4 linked regions of the Homo sapiens genome follow. The protein of the gene in region 2 purifies or fractionates together with the protein of the main gene of each other region. This does not show direct contact. Each region holds a gene or a part of one and is shown on either strand. Other genes may lie near its edges.

Region 1 (7,821 bases), on a different chromosome or scaffold from region 2:
AGTAACCTAGTCAAAATGATTCTCTGTGTTTCGTTTAGTATTGGGAATTTTCTATTAATTCAGTACTTGCAACTTAGGATGCTTTTGGCTGTAAACAACTTGACTAAAACTCACTTGAACAATAAGGAAATGATTATCTCCCATAATAGAAAATTGAGAGATAAGGGAGACTGTCAGGTTGTGTGATAACAAAATTCAGTCATCAAGTACACAGGTTCTTTGTCTCTTACCTCTTCCACTCACAGTGCTGTTTCATCCTAAGAGTATTTCCATCTTGAAAGTAAGAGGCCAGGTGCGGTGGCTCACACCTGTAATCCCAGCACTTTGGGAGGCCGAGGCAGGTGGATCACCTGAGGTCGGGAGTTCGAGACCAGCCTGACCAACGTGGAGAAACCCTGTCTCTGCTAAAAATACAAAATTAGCCAGGCGTGTTGGTGCACGCCTGTGATCCCAGCTACTCAGGAGGCTGAGGCAGGAGAATTGCTTGAACCCAGGAGGTGGAGATTGCAGTGAGCCAAGATTGTGCCATCATACTCTAGCCTGGGCAACAAGAGTGAAACTCCATCTCAAAAAAAAAAAAAAAAAATGGAAAGAAAAAGGAAAGAAAAAGAAAGTAAGACTGGCTGGGCACAGTGGCTCATGCTTGTAATCCCAGCACTTTGGGAGGCTGAGGCAGGAGGATCACTTGAGCCCAGGAATTTGAGACCAGCCTGGGCAACATAGTGAGACCCTGTCTTTAGAAATAATAAAAAAAAATTAGGCTTGGTGGCATGCTGCATGTGGTCCTGGCTACTTGGGAGGCTGAGGCAGGAGGATTGCCTGAACCCAGGAGGTGGAGGCCGCAGTAAGCCATGATTGCACCAGTGTACTCCAGCCTGGGTGACAGAGTGAGACCCAGTCTCTAAAAGAAAGAGAGAGAGAGAAGAGAGGAGAGAGGAGAGAGAGGACAGAGGAGAGCGAAGAAAGACTGTCAGAGGAAATTAGGCAGAGGGCAAGATAAAGCCATTCAGGAGGCTTTTCTTTAGTATGATTGGGCCAACTTTAGTATTATGTCCATCCCAAGCCAGTAACAGTTTTTATGGGAATTGACTTAGACTAATCAGGATCCACTCCTTGAGCTGGGGATAAGATCAGCTTTCTCCAAAGCACAAGTGGGAGAGGGAAACCCAAACTGAATTAGGGTTGGGTTAGGAAGAAAGGAGTTTGGCAAGGGTGAGATGCTAACAGACATTATGAAACTCTGTGGTGGTGCAGTGATAGAGCCGGGCACAGTATATGATGGAATCACTGAGGCTGGAGGGACGTCCTAAACTAGCCTGAAGTAGTCAGGAAGAACTCTCTGGAGGAAGTAAGGCCTGGCCTAAATCTTCAGGATGAGGAGGAGTGAACCAGACAAAAGAGCAAGGGGTGAGGAGAATGGCTTTCCAGGCAGAAGGAACAACATAAGCAAAGTCACAGAGAAGACAAGCAACATGGTGTTGTATGAAGCTACAAGCATTTTGGTGTTGCTGGAATTTCAGGTGATGTGAACAGTAGTGGAGAAGAGGCTGGAGAGGGAAGTGGGAGCCAGATCAGAGGGCATGTAGTATGCTAACCAAGAAGCTTAGATTTCATCCAGTGGTATTACAGACCAAACATAGAAACATACTAATGACTGATATGGTCAGGTTGGCATTTTAAGTATTTGGGGGATGGTTTTAAGGGAGTCTAGACCAGAGGTTTTCATGATAGTCTGGATGAGAGATTGTGGGGTCCTAGCTTGAAGACATTTTTGAAAATGGTTAATAACATAGGCTCTAAAGTCAGGTCTCATGGGTTTAAACAACCTGGTTTCACTTCTTATTATCTTGGTGATCTAAGGCAAATTACATTATCCCTTTAAGCCTCGGTCTTCTCATCTGTGAAATAGGAAAAATAATAATAATAATACCCACTTCATGATGTGGCTAGAGAATTAAATAACTTGTGTAAAACTCTTAGTCATGTCCAGCACAAATACTCAATGTCAACTTTTAAAGATTATTAAGGATTGATGTAAAGAAAAGTAGTAAGGGAATGAATTAGACCAAGTGCTAGCTTTCACAAAGTTTGTGTATTATTTTATGGAACAAAAAATACTATTAAAATATTTTTTCATAATTTTAGACCTATAGAAAAGTTGCAAACATACTACAAAGAATTCCTGTATACTTTTTACCCAGATTCTTCAAGCATTTTCATTTCTCTCATTGCCTGCTTGCCCTGTTCTCTTCCTTAGTATCAGTGTACTTATTCTTTTCTAAACTGTATGTTGCAGACATGATCTAAATATTTCAGTGTATATTTCTTAAAACCAGGGAATTATATAATTGCAGTATAGTTATAAAAACCAGGAAATTAATAATAACATTAACACATTGATACATTACTGTTATCTAATCTGCATTCTATTCAAACTTCACCACTTATATTAATAGTGCTCTTTATAGAAAAAAAAGATCTAAGTTCATGCATTGCACTCAGTTGTCGTGTTCCTTTAGTATCCTTTAAGCTAGACTAGTTCCTGAGCTGCCTTTTATGCTTCATGATATTGCTACTTTTAAGCCATTTATTTTGTAGAAAGTCCCTCAGTGTGGATTTGCCTATTTCCTCAATTAAACTTAGGTTACAGATTGTTGGCCAAAATACCATAGAACTGTTGTGTTCTACTGAATGCATCATGTCAGCAGGCATGTGATGCCTGTCTGTCTCATTATTGTGATGTTAACTTTGATCACTTGGTGAAGTGGTAGACACCACAGTGTTCTATCTGCCACTTTTCCCCAATTCAGTGGTGGTTCTTTTCCTCTGCATTGAAAGGAATCTTTTTATGTGTGCCCATTCAGAAGGGCACCACATAACAACAATGTAGTCATAATTTTTGGAAATAAAAAGGACTTCTGTAATTTTTAATACTAGACTTGAAGCCTTACTGTTAAGGTTGAGATTATTTCAAGTATGAAGCACTAAAATGACTTTTATAAATTATGTACACTTATATTTCATGGCATTAATGTGAGTAACTTTTTTTGAACATAATAATCAGACAGGTTGGTTACTTTTACATTGGGTGACTTATTTTATAATTTATAATTTTATGTTGATGTAACAGGGCCTGCACCCTAGAATAATAGCTGAAGGATTTGAAGCTGCAAAGATAAAAGCACTTGAAGTTTTGGAGGAAGTTAAAGTGACAAAGGAGATGAAAAGAAAAATCCTCTTAGATGTAGCTAGAACATCATTACAAACTAAAGTTCATGCTGAACTGGCTGATGTCTTAACAGAGGTATGTTATTAAACTTTTGCATTCAGAACAAATATAGCCTAATGCATGGTGATATTTTTCTTTTTCTGTAAGATAATCAAGTATTTCATGTGGTTTTTTGGGCATAAAATATGGAAGACAGACAATTATTGTATAGGCCTAACTGTAGATTAGATTTGACTGGTCAGAACAGTATTTGTAATTTTCAGAAGTATCATACTAGGCCTTTTTTTAAACGTGACTTGAAAGGTGGGAGAGGTTTGGCTGCCTGCAGATCATCTCCTGTGGAAGCTCTTGAATAGTATACTGGTCTTTTTAAATCTAGCAGTCCATATTTTATTATGTGAGGTGACACACAAGATAGTTGTTTTAGCAGTGTACCTTGTAGATAAGGTTACCAATATAATGAAATGTGATATGATATATTAATATATTAATATTCACATATTGGAAATGTATGTTTGTTTAGTTTATTTCTTTTATTAATTTATTTGAGACAGAGTCTTACTCTGTCACTCAGGCTGGAGTGCAGTGTCATGATCTCAGCTCACTGCAACCCCCGTCTCCCAGGTTCAAACGATTCTCCTACATCAGCCTCCCGAGTAGCTGGGATTACAGGCGCGTGCCACCACGCCTGGCTAATTTCTGTATTTTTAGTAGAGATGGGGTCTCACTATGTTACCAAAGCTTGTCTTGAACTCCTGACCTCAAATGATACACCCACCTCGGGCTTCCAAAGTGCTGGGATTACAGGCATGAAGTCACCACATCTGGCCAGTGTTTTGTTTATTTCTAAAGGTAGAATATATGTTATATAGGCTGGGCATGGTGGCTCATGCTTGTAATCCCAGCACTTTAGGAGGCCGAGGTGGGGAGACGACCTGAGGTCAGGAGTTTGAGACCAGCCTGGCCAACATGGTGAAATCCTGTCTGTACTCAAAATACAAAAATTAGCTGGGCATGTTAGCAGGCACCTGTAATCCCAGCTACTTGGGAGGCTAAGGCAGGAGAATCACTCTGGGAGGGAGGGGGAGGTTGCAGTGAGCTGACATCATGCCATTGCACTCTAGCCTGGGTGACAGAGTGAAACTTTGTCTCAAAAAAATATATATATATATATATATATATTTTATATAAAGACAAGATTGGCTGGATATTTTGGGAAGGCTTTTATCAGGTGGCAATGATTTGATATCATTATTGTTTTTCAGCTTTGTAATTTCTGAAACTTGAATATATTTGTTTACCAGGAAGAATGATAAATTCTTAGGAAACAAATTCACAAGACATTGACATACAAAGCAGAATACTACCTTAATAATTTACTTTGAGAACTACAAATGCCAAATGTACTGGAATACTTGAGTTGTTTCTGATCGATTCTCCTTACCGTTAAAAAAAAACAACTTGGGAAATCAGATTAAGATCAGACAATTTCTTGATGAGCAGAGTCAGAAGAAAGGCTCTGCTGTGTTTTCTGCTGTTAGAGTACTTGAATGGCCCCAAATCTTCATGCTGCTAGGGCACCCATTCTGTTTTAGAGTTACAGAAACAGTGATATTCTCACTATCCAATGGCCTTTGTCCTATTTCTTATTTGCCTCTAAAATAAAATATTATGTCACCTCAGGCAAAGTTTTCTAAGATACAGTTTTTTCTGCTTTATGTATATTTTAGGGTAGTTATAACTTAGCCCTTAATTTCTGCAGTTATTTATTATTTTTATATCATTTTCTGAGCTAAGCAATAAGACGTGTTGTGCTATGCTTCTTAAATTGTATATCCCTGGTCATATGTGACAGAATAAATGAGACGTAGCTTTCTGGAGTGTCAATTTTACTTTACAATTTTGGGGGAAAACATTATTTTTACATTGAGATAAACATATTATGGGATGACATGGAAACTTTTCACGATAAAACATGAGACTTTAACGTTTCCTGTTATTACAGCCAGCAAATTGGAGCTATTACCTTAGATTACCTTTCCTTCTTTTCCATTAAGGTGTCCTTTGGTGGAAAAGTTTGGATAGTCTTGGTATGATAGAAAGAGTAGTCGCTGGGCAGTTAGGGAGCCCTGAATTCTAGTCCCGGCCCTGTTACTAGCTGTTAGATCTTATTTAAAAACTGTGACTTCTTAAGGTCTTATCTCAGTTGCCTTATCTGTAAAATAAAAGGTTTGGACCTAATGATCTCTGAAGTTTCTTTAGACTCTAAAGTGTCTGTTGGCATTGGCTATTGTTAGCATCCATAGTAAAGTGGCACATATTGGTCTTGCCCTAGGTTTTGAATCCTGAAGGCTTTTATCTCCTTAGTCTGGTGATAGATTGTTTGGGCCCTTGGTTTATTTTAGTAGTCCAAATAACTTAACTGTTCTCATTCATTTCTCTTTCAGGTTGTGGTGGATTCTGTTTTGGCTGTTAGAAGACCAGGTTACCCTATTGATCTCTTCATGGTAGAAATAATGGAGATGAAGCATAAATTAGGAACAGATACAAAGTAAATTACATAAGCTTTGACAACATATGGGTTCTAGAATTTTTTAAAGATATTCTTTTATTAAATTCATTACTTACTTTTATTCAACATAAATATATTCATTCACCATATATTAAGTCACTGCTCTAGGTAATGGGAATGAGAGTAAACAGAACAGAATTTCTTTCCCCAAGAAGTTTATGTTTCTAATTGAAATAGAAAAAAAATCATGTGTGTGATTTTATAGTGGACAGGGAAGACTACTCTGATAAGAACCTGGAGAGCTAAGAGGTCTCTGAAGAAACAAGGGAGCTAGCCATGTGCACATCTGGAATAAGAGGGTTCTAAGCAGAAGGAATGACCTCTGAAAGGGTCCTGAGGCAGAAGTGTGACTAGGTTGTTACAGTGTGCCTGGAGCACAGGGAGAGGAGGTGAGGCAAAAGGGACCAGATTATGGAGTACCATGTTGATTTTGGATTTACTCTTTTAAAACTTTGTATTATAGAAAACTGTGAACATATATAGAGAGAACAGAATAGGGAATTTCCACATAACTGTTAGCTATCTTTATCAATTTCTAACATATGAAGCATACCCTTCCCTCTTTCCCCCTCCCACCTAGGATTATTTTGAAGCAAATCCAGACATCATATACCACCTGTAAATATCATATAATCCATAAAACATAAACCCCCTGCTTTTACCTAATATATCCACAAAACATTATAACACCTTAAAAATGAATAACTCATTAATACTATCACATTTCCAGTTTATAGTCTAATTTGTCTAACAGTTGTCTCAGATTTTTTTCAGTTTTGTTTGGATTAAGATCTACGCACAGTCTGTATAGTGCACTTAGGTGATATCTCTTTTAGTCTCTGTTAATTTGTTAATTTGTAGGTTCTTTCTTCCTCTCATTGTTTTTCACCTTGATAATTATTTTGGAAAAGTCTGATTATTTGTCTTGAAGAGTTTTTGTGGGAAGATTTTTGATTACTCATGCAATTTTCTTCTTCTTCTTCTTCTTTTTTTTTTTTTTGAGATGGAGTCTCACTCTGTCCCCCAGGCTGGAGTGCAATGGCGTGATCTTGGCTCACTGCAACCTCCGCCTACTGGGTTCAAGTGATTCCCCTGCCTCAGCCTTCTGAGTAGCTGGGACTACAGGTGTGTGGCACCACGCCTGCCTAATTTTTTGTATTTTAGTAGAGACGGGGTTTCACCATGTTGGCCAGGCTGGTCTCGAACTCCTCACCTTGTGATCCACCCGCCTCGGCCTTCCAAAGTGCTGGGATTAAAGGCGTGAGCCACCACGCCCGGCCCCACTCATGCAATTTTCTTAATGGCTATAGGACTAATTAGGTTTTCTACTTATTTTTTGAATCATTTTGGTAAGTAATGTTTTCTTAGAAATTTGTCCATTTTGTTTAACTCTGAAATTTTTGGTATAAAGTGTTCATAAATATCCTTACTGGCATAAAATTTTTATAAGGATCCTGTTTGCAGGATCTGTAGTGGTATCACCATTTATTTCTGGTGTTATTTATGCCTTTCTTTCCTTGTTGTGATAATTTTTTCCCAGAGGTTTGTTTTCATTTCACAGTGTCTTTCTCTTTATTATTTAATTTACTTTTTTGGAATTTTGTGGGGACTTTTTTGCTGCTTCTGTTTTATTGTGATAGCTACTTAGGTTATTAATTTTCAGTCTCCTGCTTTTGAATACAGTACTTAAGACCTTAAATTTTTCTCAAAGTACTATTCAGCTGCATCCTTCAAGTTTTGATATGTAATCTTATGATTTTTATTCAGTTTAAAATATTTTCTAATTTCAACTAGAAGTGTGTTTCTTAACATGGGGAAATTTTAGTTATCTTATTACTGATACCTAGCTTAATTACATTGTGGTCAGAGAATATGCTCTATGAGATTTTTGCTCCTTTGAAATTTGTTGACACTTGCTTTATGGCTCAGTGTATAGTCAGCTTTTGTTATGTTAATGTTTCATGTACTTGAAAAGAATGTATGCTGCAGTTGGTAGGTACAATTTTATATACATGTCCAT
Region 2 (6,502 bases):
ACAGGTAAGTGCTAGTATTACTCTGATTTTAGAGAGAAGCAGTGTAAGGCCCAAAGAGTTAGTTAAAACACTGGCCCAAGGTGACACAGATAGTGATGATTGAGTCTGTGCTCTTACTATGGCACTGAATGGGTTCTGCAGTTAGTTTAATAAGCATTTACATGCCTGTGTGCCAGGCATTGTGCCAGATGCTGGGGCTGTAGATTTAACAAATTCTCAACGGCCTACAGTCTATTGAAAGAAACAAAGATTGGCCGGGCGCGGTGGCTCACGCCTGTAATCCCAGCATTTTGGGAGGCTGAGGCGGGCGGATCATGAGGTCAGGAGATCAAGACCATCCCAGCTAACATGGTGAAACCCGTCTCTACTAAAAATATAAAAAATTAGCCTGGCACAGTGGCGGGCGCCTGTAGTCCCAGCTACTCGGGAGGCTGAGGCAGGAGAATGGCGTGAACCTGGGAGGCAGAGCTTGCAGTGAGCCGAGATCGCGCCACTGCACTCCAGCCTGGGTGACAGAGCAAGACTCCGTATCAAAAAAAAAAAGAAAAAGAAACAAAGATTATTCAGTAACAGGTGGCAATTAGGGTGATGGAATAGGGTAACAGAAGGCACTGAGCCGGTGCTGTCGACCCAGGCTTGTAGTTCAGGGACGCCCAGATGGGTCTGAAAGGATGAGTAAGAATTGGGCACAAAAACAGTAGTGAGGAGTGGATGGGAGGATTCCCAGGAGGAGGAGTTTCAAGTAACACAGGATGGGAGGGGTGGATCTTGTGCAAGGTGAATTCCTCATTAGCAGGCACCGTCTTCCAGCCTCAGGCTAGGGTTGGCATTTTTTTTTTTTCCAATAAGATTGGAAAGTAGGAGGAAATAGTACTCATCCCTACAATCACCTTAAGAATAAAGGCCTCCTGGAGCCAGAAGCATTGAGGACTGGCTGCTGGCAGACAGAATCCCGGGCAGGGGTGGCTCCCTGAGAAAGAGAGGCCTGGGAGGTCCTGGGGTGGGACCCAGGGAAACACAGATGCCTTGCCCATCCTCTCTGGTGTAGTGAAGTCCTTTGAAAGGCCACCTACAGTCAAGAGTAGTAGAGAATGAGAGGAGACTCACTTCTCAAAGTATCCCAGCTCACTTCCTGGGCAGGGTTTCTTAAAGGGACCAGTACTCTCTCCAAAGCTTCACCCTCATTCACCCCTAGCCCTATCTCATTTAGTTGAAGTGACTCCTGGATCCCACAAGTTTCCCAATTTGTGAAGGAAGATGGCATTCCCCAATGGGGCTGGCAGACACAGAACCAGCAGCAGTCCAGTGTCCCATAGGCCAGTGACAGCATGACTCATCTTATTTCTAAAGGCCCCTGCCATATCTAAAAATGCCAGTTTGTGAATGCCTGGGGAAAGGGCATCAGAAGAATATCTCTACTCATTGAAGCCAGGCGTGGTGGCTCATGCCTGTATTCTCAACACTTTGGGAGGCCAAGGCAGGTGGATCACCTGAGGTCAGGAGTTTGAGACCAGCCTGGCCAACACGGTGAAACCCCGTCTCTACTAAAAATACCAGGTGTGGTGGCAGGCATCTGTAATCCCAGCTACTCTGGAGGCTGAGGCAGGAGAATCGCTTGAACCCGAGAGGCAGAGGTTGCAGTGAGCTGAGATCACACCATTGCACTCCAGCCTGGGCAACAAAACAAGACTCTGTCTCAAAAAAAAAAGAATACCTCTCCTCTTTGGCTTCCCCTCTGGCTGCCCAGGGAGGACAGTGAAGGGGATAAGACCTGCAAAGGGTTTTCCAGGCCTAAACTTCACGCAGTGTTTCAGGCTTAGCCAAAGGGCTGGACACTAAGGAAGACTAGGGCGTGTAGTCGTACCATGGCTTCAAAAGACCCAGGCAGCTGGGCACAGTCGCTCACACCTGCAATCCCAGCACTTTGGAAGGTCGAGGCAAGAGGATTGCTTGAGCCCCGGAGTTCGAGACCAGCCTGGGCAACATGACAAAACCCTGTCTCTACAAAAAATACAAAAATTAGTCAGGTGTGGTGGCATGGACCTGTAGTCCCAGCTACTTGGGAGGCTGAGATGGGAAGATCTCTTGAGCCCAGGAGGTCAAGGTTGCAGTGAACCATGATTATGCCACACTCCAGCCTGGATGACAGAATGAGACCATATCTAAAAAAATAATAATAATAAAAATAAAAAAAAAGAAACAGACTCTCAGGCTTAGCTATAGCAGGAACTTCTTTGAATGGTGCTATCAACCACACTGATACAGATATGACTCACTCTGGCTGAGCAGTGGTTGAAAGCTTGGCCTGGCCATGGGAGGCAATAGATGCTGGTGGGCCTGTCTTGCTGTACCTGTGAGCTAAGCCAGGGGCATGTATGGCCTTTCTTCTTAGATTACCGAGTATATGCGGCAGGCGGGATGGGCCTGGACCTACGTCCACACAACCACCTCCAACACTATGACATGCTGAAGGACATGTGGGTGTCCCTAGCACCCATGCCCACCCCGAGATATGCTGCCACCTCCTTCCTCCGAGGCTCCAAGATCTACGTGCTGGGTAAGGACAGGTTACTGTTCTATACCTACCCTCCTTCCTTCCCTTGGCTCAGTTCCCATAGGAAGCAGTGCCTGTGTGCTGAGCATCTCCTCGGCACTGGGGATAATCACACTGCCCAGCCCACCGGGAGCTTCCTGTATGAATGAGTAACTGTCAAAAGGGGAAACCCTTTTCACTGTCGCTGTCCTCAGGGACAACCCTTCTGCCCAACCTCTATCCTGCTCTGGCCCCCAGGGGGACGACAGTCCAAGTACGCGGTCAACGCTTTCGAGGTCTTTGACATCGAGACTCGCTCCTGGACCAAGTTTCCCAACATTCCCTATAAGCGGGCCTTCTCCAGCTTTGTGACCCTGGACAACCACTTGTACAGCCTAGGAGGCCTGCGGCAAGGTCGCCTCTACCGGCAGCCCAAGTTCCTGCGGACGATGGACGTGTTCGACATGGAACAGGGTGAGCTGGTCACCTTCCCCAGGAAGCTCTGGCTGCCCACTGCCCTTCTGGCTGGCTCCCCATCCCTTACCCCTATTCCAGCCATCTTCCAGGGCCGTTTACCCAGCTGGGCAAGCTTCTCAGAAGTCTCAGCACCCCTCTCCACTCAGGGCTACTCTTGGAATCAAATTCCTTCATTGGTATAGGTCCCCTTTTTGCTTGGTTGGTTTTTATCAAAGCCCCTTTTCTACCTATATTGTCTTTTCTTACAATATTCACACAGGACCAGGTCAGAGAGGGATTTTTCTTACTTTTTACTGATGGAGAAACAGAAGGATCCTGACTCCTCCCTCACTGCCTCTATTAGCCTCCTAACCAGAAGTCAAGGTGATTCATTGTAGGGGATGATGATGCCTTACAGAGCAGCAAGCATGGGAGAGGGGGAAGCCACAGAGAATTTGAAACAGCAGGAGGAACTGTGTACTCCCCAAGCATAAAGGATAAATAGAGTGAAGACACTGCCCAGGGTGAAAGCTATTTGGGCCACAATCTGCATTTGGTGGGAGTGGTCTGTATCTTATTCTGTCTATATAACCCACCATTATCCATGGCCTATAGGGGGATGGCTGAAGATGGAACGATCGTTCTTCCTCAAGAAGCGGCGGGCAGATTTTGTGGCTGGCTCTCTGAGTGGACGGGTCATAGTGGCTGGGGGACTTGGTAAGGATGGCGCTTTCACGCTGGAATTTATTGTGGTTCTGGTGCTCAGTGGATCCTTGGCACTTTGCATATGCAGGAAAGGGTACTGACTCCCTGCAGACCACCTGCCTACCACTATACTCCAAAAAATTCGAAGCACTCCCTTTCTTCCAGCCTAGATATTACCTATCCACTGTGGGCCCCAGGTGTGGCCTTTCTGTCCTCCTACACAGGGAAACTGTGACGCAGAGAGAATAAGGGACACCCGTAGCCGTGCAGCACAGGCTTACTGAGCACAGATCCCTAAACGGGAATGACTGGAGACAAACTGTGGAGGGGATTAGCCTTGGTCCTCCTCTGACCAGTCTCTTATCCTGTTCCAGCCCAATCGTGGAACAGGAAAGCAATCTGATTAAATAAGTTCAACAGATGAATCTTGGGTTTGATGTATTAACTCTGCCAGAGATTACTAGTATTTTGAAGGAGGGACTCTAAAGCGAGAAGTTCCCCATCATCAAGGAAGAGAGATCCAGGCAGCAGGGCTTCCAGGTACCCCAAGTCTACTTAGTGTGGACAAACTCCCACTTTACTCAGGCATGAAGGAACCGTGTCAACTAGACCATGTCAGTAGCTTTTTTAGGAAAGGGCAGCAGTGAGGCAGTAGTGTGCTAGAAAGCTCTGGTAAAAAGCAATGGGTAGGGAAAGAAAGCTTACTCTTAAAGAGACAGGAAGACGGTAGGAGGGACAAAGTGGCTGCTTGACAAAAGCCACTGGCTTAGTAAAGGGAGTAATCCTGTAGCCAAGGAAGTTGACCTTGCTTGGCTTCTGCTTGTGGGTGCCGAAGGGAGGGAGGTGGGGTGACCGTGGGGCATGGATTGGTGGTTGGACTCCTTTGTAAGGTCTGATTCCCTTGACACTTTCAGGGAATCAACCCACTGTCCTGGAGACGGCGGAAGCATTCCACCCAGGGAAGAACAAATGGGAGATCCTCCCTGCCATGCCCACACCCCGCTGTGCCTGCTCCAGCATAGTCGTCAAGAACTGCCTCCTCGCCGTGGGAGGTGTCAACCAGGGTCTGAGTGACGCAGTGGAGGCCCTGTGTGTCTCTGACTCCTAGCTGTCTCTGGGCTCAGTACCTTTGCCCTGGACCATATCACTTCACTCTTAACATGAGGAATGATCTTGTCCAAGCAGTCGGGGCTACTTCCAAGAATGTCAGCTCCTGTTAGCAACCAGTGGAGTCTGGCCTTGGGGCTCTAAGTTGACCTCTCTATAGCTCCAAATCCTACCAATCTCAGAAAACTGTAAGAGGCACAGATGACTCCACCAGCTGCAGAGCTGACTCTGAAGAGAGTCTTCACTTACTGCACAGGCAAAGAAAGGCACAGGAATATTTCCTACCTCTCCCTCCTGTGAGTCCCACCTCCCCCCACCCCCATCTCCAGGAGGCAGGTAGAGCAGTTCTGACCGAGAGGATAGACTGCTGTTGCTGTCTTTCCCCAGCTCTGAACTAGTTTTAAGGTAGCTTAGGATGAAAAATGGAGAATGATTGGGGGTTCCAAACCACTTTCTTCTCCCTTGGCTTATATCTCTTCACCATTTGGTGGTCAACTGTGGGCCTACCCTGGACCTCATCTACTCAGCGAGAATTGGACATGAAGCTAGAGGCAGCTGCCTTGGAAGGGAAGTCAGGCTCACTTGGACAGCCCAGGCCATGGCAGGAAGAATCCCTTCCTCTTGGGGTCCTTGATGGGCATGTGTGATGGGGAAGGAGCAGTCTCCCAGCCCTGGGTCTGCTCCCCACATCTCTCCTAATTCCACTTCACCTTTTGCCACCCCCTCCCCACCAGAGGCCTAGCCCTTTTGTCACCGAAGGCCCCCAGAGTGTTTCTGTGTGAAACCCTCTCATTTACACTGTGGCATCAAAATCCACAAAAGATGGATTAATTGCACTCTGGTTAATAGCAGCAGCACAATGATTAAAATCTATATTCCTATCTTCTCTAGCACCCTGGTGTGGGGATGGGGCGGAAGGGTGTCTTGAGGGGCAGGGAGGACCCCATAAAACAATCCCTCCTGCATTCTCAGGCTAAATAGGGCCCCCAGTGACTACCTGTTCTTGGCTGTCCCCTCTGAAGAGCTCTGCCTTCTCACAGCCACCACCAGTTGCCCCACTCCCAGGAAAACAGCACATGTTCTTCTTCTCCTGCCTTGAGACTGCGTGTTAGTCTTCCATTCATAACTCATCAGCAGCTCAGTCCTTCTTATGTCTAGTCTCAGTTCATTCAGCCAAAGCTCATTTTTGTCCTATCCAAAGTAGAAAGGGTTCTTTTAGAAAACTTGAAGAATGTGCCTCCTCTTAGCATCTGTTTCTGACTCCCAGTTATTTTTAAAATAAATGATGAATAAAATGCCTGCCCTGAAGGGTTCTGGAGGAGTCAGGTATCACTCATCAGGTGATAGTGTAATTCTTTCTCCAGGAGGCAGGAATGGAGGAGGATCACCTATCTGGATCTGAGGGGTCCAGGGAGCCTCCTGGAGGGAGGGAGTGTGACACCTTCAGCGGGATCTTCAAGGACAAGTGGAACCTGGGTCTTTACAGGATACGGATTTTTTTCCCCTCCCTTTCTCTGGGTACTTGGACTTTTTCCTTACTTGGGTCCAAGAAGGGCACTGCCACCTGCTGGCCCAGCATTTCCCTTCCCCCTCCCAGGGCTGGGAGGCCTCCCGTAGCCGCTGCTGCCCCCTAGTGAGGAGACTGCAGAGAGGCCTCCCCTGCTGCTTCTGGATCCCTATATTTGAGTTCAGCCCCTGAAG
Region 3 (7,821 bases), on a different chromosome or scaffold from region 2:
CTGCAGCAGGCTGCCAGCTACCTCTCCCACCCAGAATGCTCTCCGCAAAGTGTCACTGCCTGTGTCACTTCCACAGTGACTTCATGTGTCTCTAAACTCCAGCATCCGTGTGGCCCAGCTGGCCTGTCCCGGTGCGTCTCGTATGCCCGTTGGGTGGCAGTGCGCCCTGACGGTGTCTGCTCGTGGGGCCGCCTGGCCCTTCCTCGGAAGCCGTCCTCCTCTTCATCCTCTTCCCCAATCCTGCCGTGTGCTCTTGCAGCCCTCACTGACTTGCTCCTGGCCCATAGTGGCCGCTGCTCACTGCTGCACGGCTCCCAACTTGGGGACCAATATGGAGTTGCCCTCCCAACCTTCAGCGTCACTCTCCCGGCAGGGGACCTGGCCTCCATTTCCCCACCTGCCCTGGGTCAGGCCTTGTCCCATTTTCTAAGCCTCGTCCCCTCTGTGGTTCTGCTCACTCAGCCCTGGGCAGAAGCCAGTGCCGTCTTGGCTCTCCTGATGAGTCAGCAGTGGACCTCCGGCCATCTCCTCCTTCCTGCACTGGGTGCTTTGGACAGGGCAGTTTGTAAATTTTTTTTTTTTTTTTTTTTTGAGATGGAGTCTCACTCTGTTGCCCAGGCTGGAGTGCAGTGGCACGATCTCGGCTCACTGCAAGCTCCGCCTCTCGGGTTCATGCCATTCTCCTGCCTCAGCCTCCCGAGTAGCTGGAACTACAGGTGTCCGCTGCCACGCCCAGCTAATTTTTTTTTTTTTTTTTATTGATCATTCTTGGGTGTTTCTCGCAGAGGGGGATTTGGCAGGGTCATAGGACAATAGTGGAGGGAGGGTCAGCAGATAAACAAGTGAACAAGGGTCTCTGGTTTTCCTAGGCAGAGGACCCTGCGGCCTTCCGCAGTGTTTGTGTCCCTGGGTACTTGAGATTAGGGAGTGGTGATGACTCTTAACCAGCATGCTGCCTTCAAGCATCTGTTTAACAAAGCACATCTTGCACCGCCCTTAATCCATTTAACCCTGAGTGGACACAGCACATGTTTCAGAGAGCACAGGGTTGGGGGTAAGGTCACCGATCAACAGGATCCCAAGGCAGAAGAATTTTTCTTAGTACAGAACAAAATGAAAAGTCTCTCATGTCTACTTCTTTCTACACAGACACGGCAACCATCCGATTTCTCAATCCTTTCCCCCTTTTCTATTCCACAAAACTGCCATTGTCATCATGGCCCGTTCTCAATGAGCTGTTGGGTACACCTCCCAGATGGGGCGGCTGGCCGGGCGGGGGGCTGACCCCCACTCCTCCCTCCCAGAGGGGGCGGCTGGCCAGGCAGAGGGGCTCCTCACTTCCCAGTAGGGGCGGCCGGGCAGAGGCGCCCCTCACCTCCCGGACGGGGCGGCTGGCCGGGCGGGGGGCTGACCCCCCCACCTCCCTCCCGGACGGGGCGGCTGGCTGGGCGGGGGGCTGACGCCTCCACCTCCCTCCCGGATGGGGCAGCTGGCCTGGTGGGGGGCTGACCCCCCCCCCAACCTCCCTCCCAGACGGGGCGGCTAGCCGGGCGGGGGGCTGACCCCCACTCCTCCCTCCCGGAGGGGGCGGCTGGCCGGGCAGAGGGGCTCCTCACTTCCCAGTAGGGGCGGCCGGGCAGAGGCGCCCCTCACCTCCCGGACGGGGCGGCTGGCCGGGTGGGGGGCTGACCCCCCCACCTCCCTCCCGGACGGGGTGGCTGCTGGGCGGAGACGCTCCTCACTTCTCAGACGGGTCGGTTGCCAGGCAGAGGGTCTCCTCACTTCTCAGGGCTGCCGGGCAGAGACGCTCTTCCCCTCCCAGACGGGGTCGCGGCCGGGCAGAGGCGCTCCTCATATCCCAGACAGGGCGGCGGGGCAGAGGCGCTCCCCACATCTCAGATGATGGGCGGCCGGGCAGAGACGCTCCTCACCTTCCAGACTGGGCAGCCAGGCAGAGGGGCTCCTCACATCCCAGACGATGGGCGGCCAGGCAGAGACGCTCCTCACTTCCCAGACAGGGTGGCGGCCGGGCAGAGGCTGCAATCTCGGCACTTTGGGAGGCTAAGGCAGGCGGCTGGGAGGTGGAGGTTGTAGCGAGCCGAGATCACGCCACTGCACTCCAGCCTGGGCACCATTGAGCACTGAGTGAACGAGACTCCGTCTGCAATCCCGGCACCTCGGGAGGCCGAGGCCGGCGGACCACTCGCGGTTAGGACCTGGAGACCAGCCCGGCCAACACAGTGAAACCCCGTCTCCACCAAAAAAATAGGAAAACCAGTCAGGCGTGGCGGCGCGCGCCTGCAATCGCAGGCACTCGGCAGGCTCAGGCAGGAGAACCAGGCAGGGAGGTTGCAGTGAGCCAAGATGGCAGCACACAGTCCAGCCTCGGCTCGGCATCAGAGGGAGACCATGGAAAGAGGGAAAGGGGAGACCGTGGAAAGGGGAGAGGCAGAGGGCAGAGGCAGAGGCAGAAGCATTTTTTGTATTTTTAGTAGAGACAGGGTTTCACCGTGCTAGCCAGGATGGTCTCGATCTCCTGACCTTGTGATCCGCCTGCCTCGGCCTCCCAAAATTCTGGGATTACAGGCGTGAGCCACTGTGCCTGGCCTGTAAATTGTTTTATAGAGATGGGGTCTTGCTGAGTTGCTCAGGCTGGTCTTGAACTCCTGGGCTCAAGTGATCCTCCCACCTGGGCCTCCCAAAGAGCTGGGATTACAGGCGTGAGCCACCGCGCTCAGCCCCACACATGGGTTTCAAGCCCCTTGCAACCACCCAGCCAAGTCCAGCAGAGAGACAGGCAGCTCGTGAGCTCCACTCAGCATCTCTCCATCTGTCCCCTGGCAGTGTCACCCGCAACTACCTAGACTGGCTCACGTCCATCCCTTGGGGCAAGTACAGCAACGAGAACCTGGACCTGGCGCGGGCACAGGCAGTGCTGGAGGAAGACCACTACGGCATGGAGGACGTCAAGAAACGCATCCTGGTGAGCCCAGTGTCTGGCCTGTTGTGGATTTGCATGTGGGTGCCCGGGCCCAGGACTCTTGTGTGCTGTGGGTTGAGATTTCAAAGGAGCCCCCTGGTGAATTCGTAGGCCTGGGGGTGCTGGTCGGGGGGATCCCGGCGGAGGTAGCATCCTGCCCTGCCCCCGAGGGCTCGAGGATTTCCCAGGTGGACTGAAGTCATGCCTGACGGGCCGGGCATGGTGGGGCTGCTTGTAGTCCCAGTTACTCAGGAGGCTGAGGCGGGAGGATCACTTGAGCCCAGGAAGTTGAGGCTGTGGTGAGCTGTGATCATGCCACTGCACATCAGGTTGGGTGACAGAGTGAGACCCCCATCTCTACAAAAAATTTTAAAATTGCGGCTGGGCGCTGTGGCTCATGCCTGTAATCCCAGCACTTTGGGAGGCTGAGGCATGCAGATCACCTGAGGTCGGGAGTTGAAGACCAGCCTGACCAACATGGAGAAACCCCATCTATACTAAAAATACAAAATTAGTTAGGCGTGGTGGCGCATGCCTGTAATCCCAGCTACTTGGGAGGCTGAGGCAGGAGAATCGCTTGAACCCAGGAGCCAGAGGTTGCAGTGAGCCCAGATCGTGCCATTGCACTCCAGCCTGGGCAACAAGAGTGAAACTCCGTCTCAAAAAGGAAAAAAAATTTTTTTTAATTAGCCTGGTGTGATGTTGCGTGTCTGCAGTCCCAGCTACTTGGGAGGCTGAGGTGGGAGGACTGCTTGAGCCCGGGAGGTGGAGGCTGCAGTGAGCTGTGATGCACCACTACACTCCAGCCTGGGTGACAGAGCGAGACCTTGTCTGAAAATTAATTAATTTTAAATTAATTTTTAAAATATCACTCCTGAGACATTGGAAACCAGGCAGGCAGGTGGGAGTCAAAGGTTAAAAAACAGGAGTCAGAGCCTGGGCATGGTGGCTCACACCTGTAATCCCAGCACTTGGGGAGGCCGAGGCGGGTGGATCACAAGGTCAGGAGTTCGAGACCAGCCTGACCAACATGGTGAAACCTCGCCTCTACTAAAAATACAAAAAAAGTAGCCAGGCATGGTGACTCACACCTGTAATCCCAGCTACTCAGGAGGCTGAGGCAGGAGAATTGCTTGAACCCAGGAGGCTGAGGTTGCAGTGAGATGAGATCGCACCAGTACACTCTAGCCTGGGCCACAGAGCAAGACTCCATCTCAAAAAAAAAAAAAAAAAAAACAGGAGCCAGAGGCATTGGTGGACTGCTTCTCTGGGTTGGACCGGAGAGAGTGGAGCATTTGCGGTCTTCAGGGTCCCGGGAACTGCTGAACGGGCCTGGCACTGCCGGGTGGCCGCGGTCTCCTAGCACCTAGTTGTCCTTTGGTGTTAAATTGTTAAATGGAGCCCTTGTCACAGGCTGCCCCTCCCCGTGGCCAGTGGCAGCTCTGATGTGCTCAGCCTCCCGGACAATCCTGGTCCCTTCTCGCAGCCCTCAGACGTCTGAAAGGCAGTGTGCAGGTGGCGAGAGTCATGCGCGGGTCCCCGGCTTCCCCAGCTCACGTGCCCACTGAACCTGCCTCTGTCTGCAGGAGTTCATTGCCGTTAGCCAGCTCCGCGGCTCCACCCAGGGCAAGATCCTCTGCTTCTATGGCCCCCCTGGCGTGGGTAAGACCAGCATTGCTCGCTCCATCGCCCGCGCCCTGAACCGAGAGTACTTCCGCTTCAGCGTCGGGGGCATGACTGACGTGGCTGAGATCAAGGGCCACAGGTAGGCCTGGCCTGACAGCTCTCCCCACGCACTCCCCTCAGCTGTGCTGCCGGGCTTCGTCTTCTCCGGTCACCCTTTAACATCTGGTAGAGCAATCCGGGTTGTGGGCAACCGATTCCACTCATGCTGGAGTAACTGAAAAGTCCAGCCATGTGGCGGACTTCAGGCCCAGCTGATTCCAGGTGCTCAAACAGCGCTGGCAGGAACCTCCATGGCTTGACCCCTGGGAGAGAGACTTCTCGGGCCGGCCCTCAGCAGACACCCCCGGTAGTTCCAGCATAGGACCTGCAATGCCCGGGCCAGAGCTGCAGGGCCGGCGTTTGCCGTGCAGATGCTGGTCTATGTGGGCTGTGGCTGATGCCCCAGGACTAGGGGTGGGGTCGGCTCCACCCCCCACCCCGAAGCCTGTGGGCTGGAGTCAGGAGAGACGGTCTCCAGTGAGGACCGGGCCGCGCACACCAGAGAAACCTTGGCGCCTCTGTGGGCTCACTCGTCCCGGCCAGCCTCAGGCCCAGAAGCAGGGGCCACGGCCCTCAGAGTTCAGCGCCCTCCCACCTGACCCTTTGGGTGGGCAGCCGGGCGCGGCTTTTCTGGGGCTTCCCTCCTCGCCAGCCTCTGTAGACAGCGGTTCTTTGGAAACCGTAGCCTCAGTGAGAGCCGAGTGTGAGGCATCTGCTGAGTCCACCACGTGTTTCCATCCTGCAAGGCATTCACTTGAGTCCAGGTTTAAAGTGAACATTTCTGCCTTCTCTAAAAACATCCCCAGCTCCCGACCTCCCGGCTCAGGCCTTCCTAGCATCTGCCCGCCCGCTGCAAGGGTGACAGCATGCTGGCCCGCGCAGTGTCCAGTCCCCAGGGGGCGGCCACTCTGACCAGCCGGGAGTTGGGAGGAGCTGGAGGAGGTGGGGCCAGTGCAGCTTTGGGGAGTCCCAGATTGACTAGGGGGTGGGGGGTGTGAGGGGGAGGACAGGGGACCTGTTCTGCAGGCCCTTGGTTGGGCTGGGGTCTGAGCAGGAAGGAGCAGCTGGGTGAAGGTGGAGGGGTGGGGGTGGGGGGCACCCAGTCCTTCCTGGGCAAGCGGTTTGAAGTGGTCGCGAAGCCTCTTGGAGCCTGGTTCAGGGATGGCTGGAGGTGCGGGCCGGAGGAGAGACCCTGGCGGGGTTCTGAACAAGCCTGGGTCACCTCTGGCCTTGGGAGGGAGTCACCAGGTAGCGGGGCTGCGGGGAGGGCAGGCGTCTGCTGACGTCTCTGGGTTCCTGAGACAAGGACAAGGACAGGAGACTGGCTGCGGGGCGATGGATCGTTGTTATTAACAGCAGCAAAACCCTCCTTTGCCCCCAGCTCTCCAGGGCTCCCACGTTCCTCGGTCAAAGCCCAAGTTCTCACTGCAGCCCACAGGACCCCGCATGACCTGCCCCACCCCCTCCTCTCTCTCCCTCTCTTCTTCCTCCCCCTCCCTCTACCCCCTTCCCTCTCCATCTCCTCCCTCTTCCCCCTCTCCTCCCTCTTCTCTCCCCCCCTCCTCCCTCTGCCTCAGCCTCATGGCCTCCTCACTGTTCTTCTAACACACCAGGCGTGGTCCTGTTTCAGGGCCTTTGCACGGGCTGTGTCCTGGGCCTGGAACACATCTCTCAGACCCTCACGTGGCTCTCTCCTCACGTGCGTTGCTCGGGGCCTCTCCCTAAGACACTCCTTACCCCCCTGCACACTTAAAGTGTCACACACATCCCAGTGGCATCTCAGTCCCTCCATCCCTGCCTCCCTGTGTCTTCATCCCACAGACAGAGCCTTCCTCACTGTCTCTCGTGGGGCCTGGGATTCTTCTGTCCCTGTCGCGGGCCGGGCCCCTGTGCTGGGGCAGAGCACAGAGCTTGCAGGAAGCCCTCCTGAGAGCCAGTGCTGGCCATGGCTAGTATCACCCCAGCCCTTGAGGGCTGAGGCGTGCCTGGCGTCCCTCAGTGAGGAGTGGGGGCCTTCTGCTGCCAGCGCCTGTCTGGCTTTCACCATGGTGTCAGCTGAGGGATGGGACTGAGGGAGATCTGGCTTTGAATCAGTGACCCCAGAATCTGAGCTGGCGAGTCAGGGCAAGTGACCAGCGTGCCTGCAGGTGCCACACATCCGGCGGCTGCCAGCATTTCCGCCTCCCACATCATGGCCACATCTTGTGGGGCTCCAGGTGGCCTCTCCCCTGTGGCCCTGGAGGGTGCATGGTGTCGTTGTGGCCGAGCCAGGCTACCAAGTGACCTCTGACCCCGCTGTGCACCCACAGGCGGACCTACGTGGGCGCCATGCCCGGGAAGATCATCCAGTGTTTGAAGAAGACCAAGACGGAGAACCCCCTGATCCTCATCGACGAGGTGCGTGCGGAGAGGCCCGGAGACCCCCTAACCCGGCAATGCCGTGTGCAAGATGAAGCCGAGCCTTCCGGGTCCTAGGATCCCCGAGCCAACTCAGGGGCCATCGCCGTGATGCTGGCCCTGATGGCACGGACGGGTCCCTCCCACCCACAGCCACGCCCAGCAGGCTGCCCGTCCAAGGCAGGGTGTGGGTGCCGCTCTCACTCGGGGTCTCCCCAGCCCTGACCCTGGGGTCTCCCCACTGGGCGGGCTGGCCAGGGGCACGGCGAGGGGCACCACCTGCTGTCTGCTGCCCCAGGTGGACAAGATCGGCCGAGGCTACCAGGGGGACCCGTCGTCGGCACTGCTGGAGCTGCTGGACCCAGAGCAGAATGCCAACTTCCTGGACCACTACCTGGACGTGCCCGTGGACTTGTCCAAGGTGGGGGGCCTGTCTGGGGCCTGGGCTTGCTGGGGAGGGTAAGCGGCCAGTCCCCCAGCACCTTGCCGCCGCCCCCAGGTGCTGTTCATCTGCACGGCCAACGTCACGGACACCATCCCCGAGCCGCTGCGAGACCGTATGGAGATGATCAACGTGTCGGGCTACGTGGCCCAGGAGAAGCTGGCCATTGCGGAGGTAAGCCCAGCCCCTCCCCACTGCTGTCCCCTTCCCAGAGCAGGGGGCGCCCCCCAGAGCCTGCAGAGGCCGTGCCTCTGGGAGCTCCTGGGCCCGGGAGAGA
Region 4 (7,821 bases), on a different chromosome or scaffold from region 2:
CCACATTTTCACTCTCCTTGACTTCTTGAAAAAAGTCTCTTTCACTAGGGATTTCTCTGTATTCCCCATGTCCTTTAGAAAGCCATTCCTAATTTGGAGAGAGGCAAAACATTACACATGTGAGATATCTCTTTCAGAACCACTTGACATTTTAAGTGTCCAAATCACCATCGTATTTTGTAATGAAGTCAATTAAAAAAAAAAGTTTTTTTTTTGTTTGTTTTTGTTTTTTTTTTTTGAGACGGAGTCTTGCTCTGTCACCAGGCTGGAGGGCAGTGGCGCGATCTTGGCTCACTGCAACCTCCGCCTCCTGGGTTCAAGCAATTCTCCTGCTTCAGCCTCCCGAGTAGCTGGGACTACAGGCGGGCACCAGTATGTCCAGCTACTTTTTGTATTTTTAGCAGAGATGGGTTTTCACCATGTTGGCCAGGATGGTCTCGATCTCTTGACCTTGTGATCCGCCTGCCTCGGCTTCCCAAAGTGCTGGGATTATAGGTGTGAGCCACCGCGCCCGGCCCAAAAGTGTTATTTATTTATTTTTTTTTTGAGAATGGGTCTTGCTAAAGTTGCCCAGGATGGAGTGTGGTGGCATGATCATAGCTCACTGCAGCCTCAAACCTCCTGGGCTCAAGAGATCCTCCTACGTCAGTCTCCCAAGGAATTGGGACCACTGGCGCATGCCACACCACGCCTGGCATTTTTTTTTTTTTTTTTTGGTAGAGACGGGGTTTTTACTATATCGCCCAGGCTGGTGTCAAACTCCTCGGTTCAAGCAATCCTCCCACCTTGTCCTCCAAAAGTGCTGGGGTTATAGGCATGAGCCACTGTGCCTGGCTGAAGTCAAAGAAAAATGAATGTTTTTTAGCAATTTACTTTCCTGTTTCTACTGTCAATGCAAAACTAGTCTACGGACAGTGAACGTCTCCACAGCATGGCCTGGGTTCAAGACAATTACCTGTCTTTGTAGCTTAAAACATCTATTTTCTCAGAACTTTCAAAATAAAAATTTAGACTTGAGAGACTCAGAATGTAAATATCCACTTAACTCTATCCATGTACTCTTAAACTACTAAAACCAGAAGCATTTGATCCAAGTTACTACAAGTCTTTTAAAAATAATGCTCATGAGGCTGGGTGCAGTGGCTGATGCCTGTAATCCCAGCACCTTGGGAGGCTGAGGCGGCTGGATCACCTGAGGTCAGGAGTTCCAGACTAGCCTCGCCAACATGGTGAAACCCCGTCTCTACTTAAAAAAAAAAAAAAAATACAAGAAATTACCTAGCTGTGGTGGTAGGCGCCTGTAATCCCAGCTACTTGGGAGGCTGAGGCAGGAGAATTGCTTGAACCCAGGAGGCAGAGGTTGCAGTGAGCTGAGATCACGCCACTGCCTGGGCAACAGAGTGAGACTCTGTCTCAAAAATAAATAAAAATAAAAATAATGCTTATGAGATAAACCCAATTCGTCTTGGGGAGAAAAGGAGGATACTGCAGCTCTGAAGCTCAAGAGCCCTGTCTGCTTTTGATAACCACTTTATAAATGCTTAAAAAGTCTCTATACCTGCACTAATTGTTAGAAAGGTCATCTCACACTGAACTGCAATATATCCATAATTCTGGTCTGTGGATTCCAGCTTGGATAAAGATTAAAGTTTTAATCTCTTTCCCACGTGGGCCCTTCAAACATCACATATTGCCTAAGTTTTCCCTTCTCCACACTGAACACTTCCAGTTCCTTTTAACTGTTCTCATATGAAAAGATTTCTAGAGTTCCTACTCTTCCAGGATATCAACTAAACACACTCTAATTCACCAATGTCTTCTTAAAATGTGACAGAGGTCTGAATCCAGCCTCCAGAAGGGGTCCAACCAAAGAGCCAGGAGGGCCATCTCCCTTCCTCCTCTGGACGTCAGTGAACGTGGCCCAGACTATATTGATGACTGCGGTGTCAAAATCACATCCATTTACATCGAGCTGACACTTGCAGGATACCCTGATATTTTCTTATGTGAAATTTCTACACACAGTTTAACTCTCAAATACAATTCCCTAATGACATATGACATTTCATGACTGCTTTCACAACTTACCAATGATATGTGCCCTTAAAAAGTATTTGTTAGGCTGGACGCAGTGGCTCACACCTGTAATCTCAGCACTTTGGGAGGCTGAGGCAGGTGGATCACTTGAGGACAGGAGTTTGAGAACAGCCTGGGCAACACGGCGAAACCCTGTCTCTACAAAAAATATGAAAATTAGCCAGGTGTGTTGGCACACACCTGTAATCCCAGCTCCTCGGGGGCTGAGGCACAATAATTGCTTGAACTCCGAAGGCGGAGGTTGCAGTGAGCCAAGATCACACCACTGCACTCCAGCCTGGGTGACAGAGCAAGACCCTGTCTCAAAAAAAAAAGTATTTGTCTTTTAAAAAGCTGCTATTTCTAGGCCGGGCGCAGTGGCTCACGCCTGTAATACTAGCACTTTGGGAGGCTGAGGTGGGCGGATCACCTGAGGTCAGGAGTTCAAGACCAGCCTGGCCAACATGGCGAAACCCCACCTCTACTAAAAATACAAAAATTAGCCGGGCATGGTGGCAGGCGTCTGTAATCCCAGCTACTTGGGAGGCTGAGGCAGAAGAATTGCTTGATCCTGGGAGGTGGAGGTTGCAGTGAGCCGAGATTGTGCCACTGCACTCCAGCCGGGGCAACAGAGCAAGACTCTTATCTCAAAAAAAAAAAAAAAAAAAAAAAAAAAAAGCTGCTATTTCTTTTCATTATTTATTCTCAGGTATTTAACCAAGAGGCTGAAGACCCGAACCTGTCCTGGGCTCCTTTGAGGGAGGATGTGCCCATTCCAAACCTCTACCAATGCTCAGGGCCTCTCCTGACACATTCACTACACCCCTGTGCTCTTAGCATAGCCCCTTTTGGACAGCATGTGCTCCTAAGGTATCTGCAGAACAGAATCAAGCAGGATGGGCCTACCTGAGGCATGGCAGCTGGGCAGCACCTGGCTGTCAGTGGCTGTCACCCAAGCCTCTGCTTAACTCCTATTTCTTACCTTATCCCTCTATTCTGCTCCCTACCTAAGTGTGCCAGCTCTAGTTAACAGTAGGAGGGTGCTTGGCTGACAGAAGAATATAGATTCACCTAGGTCTATTAAGTGCCGACTGTAAGTCAATGCATACAATGATCTCCCCAATACCCTCGTGGATCAGAAAATCAAAATTACTGCATAATCTAATTACTGTATAATCTCTTATAAAAAGAATATCTATACAAATCACTAGGTTTCTTGACTATTTCCAGAAAATATTTTAATAAAAGACCTACTAAAATGCAGTGAAAGTTCTAAAATAAGACCCTCTGAATTACTCGATGACAAATTCATTTTAAATTGATTTATACATTAATAATAAAAAAGGCTTATAGCCAGTCTGCCTTAGTTGGTTTTAATTATATTCAGACCACTGTTTTGAACTGCCAAAAAGTTCCTTTAAGACATTATTTAACGTATGTTCATCACTGCAAATCAGGTGAATTCAGTCTCTCTACAAAAATATCCTAGTTACAAATAATTATTTTTAGTTGCACATTAGCAATTAGTACTTAAATGTGACTATGAAATATGAGTTTGTGGCAGAACCTAAACATATATTACCTTAAATTCCAATAATCCGTCCTTTGCATACTAATTATCAGCCCTATACTATGAAAAGAAGCCAATTGGGCCTGGTGTGGGGTGGCTCACACCTGTAATCCCAGCACTTTGGGAGGCTGAGGCAGGCGGATCATTTGAGGTCGGAATTTGAGACCAGCCTGACCAACATGATGAAACCCCATCTCTACTAAAGTACAAAAATCAGCTGGGCATGGTGGCAGGCACCTGTAATCCCAGCTACTTGAGAGGTCAAGGCAGGATGGGCAACAGAGTGAGACTCCCTCTCAAAAAAAAAAAAAAAAAGAAAGAAAAGAAAAAGAAAAGCAGCCTATTTTTTAAAATACGGTAGGGTACAGGTAAAAGCCATATAACGTACTCTATTTTAGAAACTCAAAATATAAAAATTTGGACTCACTTATAAAAGATTATTTCCTTTTGTAGTAACTCTTCTAAACATGAGGGTGTAAACATATCAAAGTGATGCTACAGCAATACAAACAAAACTCCTTCTCTTTTTTTGTGGGGGAACTGGGTCTTGCTCTATCATCCAGGCTGGAGTGCAGTAGCACAATCTCGACTCACGGCAACCTCCACCTCCCGGGTTCAAGAGATTCTCCTGCCTCAGCCTCCTGAGTAGCTGGGACTACAGGTGTGCGCCACCACACCTGGCTAATTTTTGTATTTTTTGTAGAGACAGGGTTTCACCATGTTGGCCAGGCTGGTATTGAACTCCCGACCTCAGGTTGTCCGCTCACCTTGGACTCCCAAAGTGTTGGGATTACAGATGTGAACCACCATGCCCGGTCAAAACTCCCTATTTCTTCAGAAAAGTTAAGCCTCATGTTTAAGTCACAGTCAACTGAAAAGGAACCAGAGTTGGTGATAAAGTATTTCCATGTAACCCAGTGGAAAAAATGTTTTAATCAAAATTCAATTTGGCCAGGTGCGGTAGCTCACGCTTGTAATCCCATCACTTTGGCAGGCTAAGGTGGGCGGATCACTTGAGGTCAGAAGTTCAAGGGCAGCCTAGCCAACATGGCGAAACCCCATCTCTACTAAAAATACAAAACTTAGCCAGGCATGGTGGTGTGCGCCTGTAGTCCCAGCTACTCGGGTGGCTGAGGCAGAATAATTGCTTGAAGCCGGGAAGCGGAGGTTGCAGTGAGTTGAGATGACACCACTGTACTCCAGCCAGGGTGTCACAGCGAGACTCCATCTCAAAAAGCAGAAAAAAAAATTTCAATTTACAGAATTTAATCCACTGGTTTCAGTCAGAGTTTACAACTCTGCGTTTATTCTACACAAACATTCTAAGAGGCAACAACGATAGAGCTGTGGCCACCTTTGTTACAAAGCATGCATTCTTTTGAATATGCCACATAATTATTTCATTGGAAATGCCTGAAATACATTTTTCAACATAAATTGACTTAATTGCTCTTATCTCATCTGTCTTATCTCGTTTGCTTTGAAAATAGCTAAATCGGCTTTAATATTACCTGAAATGGAAACCAATGACTCCCTAGCCCTCCATTCAACCAAACAAATCCAAGCTCAGAAAAACGATCTTGGGCAGATCTTTCTTTTACTCGACTGTGGATTAATATAGAGATTGGGCTAATTTTGAATGTCTTTAAAACATATTTTTTTCTGGGCAAATTTTTAACAGTAATAGGTATTCTGAATTTTAAAAACCCTAAACACAAAGAACGAAATGTAACTACTACAGCACATGTATATATAAGTTGTTAGGCGCATACTGTTATAGCAATTTCAGAAAGCAGGGCAGAGAGGTTACTTGTTTCTGCTGTTGAGCTTTCCTTAGTGCCTGGAGTCTCTTTTCTTTAAGGCGTTCCAATTCATCCTCATCCATCTGATCCAGTTTTTGAATTTCAGAATCCAAATGTTCTTCCACCAGTTTGGTAGTCTGAAGCAGCTGATGCTCCAGGACTTTGGAAAACATGTCAACAGATGCATCAGCTTCCATTCTTCCAAATGGTACAGAGTTCAGCCTGGGTGCTGGGGAGAAGATTTACAAAATACATTTTAAAAAATGCAAACAATAAGCAAGGTTTTCTCTACCATTTTCAAAAATTCTGGCAAGTGTATAATGTGTACTCTATGGAGTATTCTAACGACATCCAAGCACTTGATGCTGGGCTTAACAATTTTTATGTGTTTTTAAATTTAATTCTCAGTAGGTTCTAGTCACACCACTCAAAAACTACTTACAGCAAATTTAGGGTGCTTCTGATTTAGCATATGTTTTACTATACTAAAGCCAAGACAAGTCTTTAAGACCATCACCAAACCACAGAGAAATGAGTTGTGAAGTTATACCTAGTGATATATACTGACAATCAGTGTTCTTTACCAATGGGAAAGAGAAATCAGAAACAACTGCGAACAATAGGAAGGTATACCTACTGAGGTTTTACACATAAATATATATATTAAACTTTACTTAAACACAGAGTACAGTTGAGCAAAACACAGATTTTTTTCATGGCTGCTGCCCAAATGAGTTTCATTTAACTCCTAAGACGTCTCATTACCATTTATGTAAAGAAGAGTGCCTGGTGTTCCCTGAGCATTAATGTCCATTCCTGTTCTCCCATTACCTAACAAAAAAGTCTATGAGGTCACAAAAATTAATACTGGTTTCCATTTACTGACAGTGTTAACTTTGATGTAAAACACTCCAAATACTTTTCTAAATTTTGGGTTTTTTTCCAACATCACTCCTCTGTGTAAAATCAGAGTTTCAAAATAGAACTAATTCAGATTAGAAAGGAAGACCTATCTCAATTAGTCATGCATCACTTAACAATGGGAATATATTCTAGGCTGGGTGCTATGGCTCACGCCTGTAATCCCAGCACTTTGGGAGGCCAAGGTGGGCAGATCACTTGAGTTCAGATGTTTGAGACCAGCCTGGGAAACATGATGGAACCCTGTCTCTACTAAAAATAGAAAAATTGGCCAGGCCCGGTGGTGTGTGCCTGTAGTCCCCGCTACTAGGGAGGCTGAAGTGGGAGGAGGATACCTTGAGCCCAGGAGGCAGAGGTTGCAGTGGGCTGAGAACGCACCACTTGCACCCCACCCTGGGCAACAGAGCCAGACCCTGTCTCAAAAACCAAAAACCAAAAACCCACAAAACAATGAGAATACATTCTGAGAAATGCATCATTAGGTGATTTTGATATTGTTTCAAACATTATAGACTATTTACACAAACCCAGATGGTACAGCCTGCTACACACCTAGGCTATGCCATACAGCCTATTACTCCTAGGCTACAAATCTGTACAGCATGTTACTGTACTGAATACTGCAGACAACTGTAACATAATGGCATTTGTGTATCTAAACATAGAAAAGGTACGATAAATACAGTATTACAATCTCATAAAACTGAAATGTCCTTATGTGGCACATGACTATATATTTTAAAAGAAATGGAGTATTTTGTACTAGCAATTAGTACAAAATTTTACTTTTTTTTTTGAGACGGAGTCTCGCTCTGTCGCCCAGGCTGGAGTGCAGTGGCGCATCTCCGCTCACTGCTAGCTCCGCCTCCTGGGTTCACGCCATTCTCCTGCCTCAGCCTCCCGAGTAGCCGGGACTACAGGCGCCCGCCACCACGCCCGGCTAATTTCTTTTTGTATTTTTAGTACAGACGGGGTTTCACCGTGTTAGCCAGGATGGCTACGATCTCCTGACCTCGTGATCCGCCCGCCTCGGCCTCCCAAAGTGCTGAGATTACAGGCGTGAGCCAGCCGCGCCCGGCCAAAATTTTACTTCTTTTAAAAGAAATGGAGTATTTTGTACGAGAAATTTTATACCAACAATTAGAGGGCAAGTTTATGTGTATCTCAGGGTTATTACTGCAGAAATGATTTATAATTTGCCTATCAAAGCAGGAGGCTGTTGCATATCAATGAACTATGATACATTTGCAAATAATACTGAAGCACCCCAAACTTCACAACAAACTGTGAATTCATTCACTCAGCTTCTGACACAGATTCTGACCCACACAGGCCCTCTATAAACGTTGAGCTGAAGAGAAATATTCTTGCAAACTTCAATTCTGATTCCTTTTTCTTTACAGGAAAAGGATTTGAAAAGCATACTTGATTTCATCTTTGTATCTCCATAGA

What was found.
Region 1: the proteins of KLHDC8A (region 2) and CCT6B purify together in Homo sapiens (affinity purification with mass spectrometry; 2 studies listed by BioGRID and IntAct, with this or other methods). This does not show direct contact.
Region 3: the proteins of KLHDC8A (region 2) and LONP1 purify together in Homo sapiens (affinity purification with mass spectrometry; 2 studies listed by BioGRID and IntAct, with this or other methods). This does not show direct contact.
Region 4: the proteins of KLHDC8A (region 2) and TXNDC9 purify together in Homo sapiens (affinity purification with mass spectrometry; 2 studies listed by BioGRID and IntAct, with this or other methods). This does not show direct contact.

Annotation. Positions count from the first base shown.
Region 1 is NC_000017.11:34,949,909-34,957,729, reverse strand, and holds part of CCT6B (T-complex protein 1 subunit zeta-2), read left to right. Parts: intron 1-3,130; coding exon 3,131-3,304; intron 3,305-5,676; coding exon 5,677-5,780; intron 5,781-7,821. UniProt on the Homo sapiens protein: Component of the chaperonin-containing T-complex (TRiC), a molecular chaperone complex that assists the folding of proteins upon ATP hydrolysis.
Region 2 is NC_000001.11:205,335,699-205,342,200, reverse strand, and holds the end of KLHDC8A (kelch domain-containing protein 8A), read left to right. Parts: intron 1-2,392; coding exon 2,393-2,557; intron 2,558-2,791; coding exon 2,792-3,007; intron 3,008-3,604; coding exon 3,605-3,706; intron 3,707-4,608; coding exon 4,609-4,802; 3' UTR 4,803-6,140; downstream 6,141-6,502.
Region 3 is NC_000019.10:5,695,951-5,703,771, reverse strand, and holds part of LONP1 (lon protease homolog, mitochondrial isoform 1 precursor), read left to right. Parts: exon of another isoform or gene 1-41; intron 42-2,844; coding exon 2,845-2,983; intron 2,984-4,566; coding exon 4,567-4,745; intron 4,746-7,014; coding exon 7,015-7,102; intron 7,103-7,400; coding exon 7,401-7,523; intron 7,524-7,601; coding exon 7,602-7,718; intron 7,719-7,821. UniProt on the Homo sapiens protein: ATP-dependent serine protease that mediates the selective degradation of misfolded, unassembled or oxidatively damaged polypeptides as well as certain short-lived regulatory proteins in the mitochondrial matrix.
Region 4 is NC_000002.12:99,327,566-99,335,386, forward strand, and holds part of TXNDC9 (thioredoxin domain-containing protein 9), read right to left. Parts: intron 5,678-7,821; 5' UTR 5,646-5,677; coding exon 5,457-5,645; intron 89-5,456; coding exon 1-88. UniProt on the Homo sapiens protein: Significantly diminishes the chaperonin TCP1 complex ATPase activity, thus negatively impacts protein folding, including that of actin or tubulin.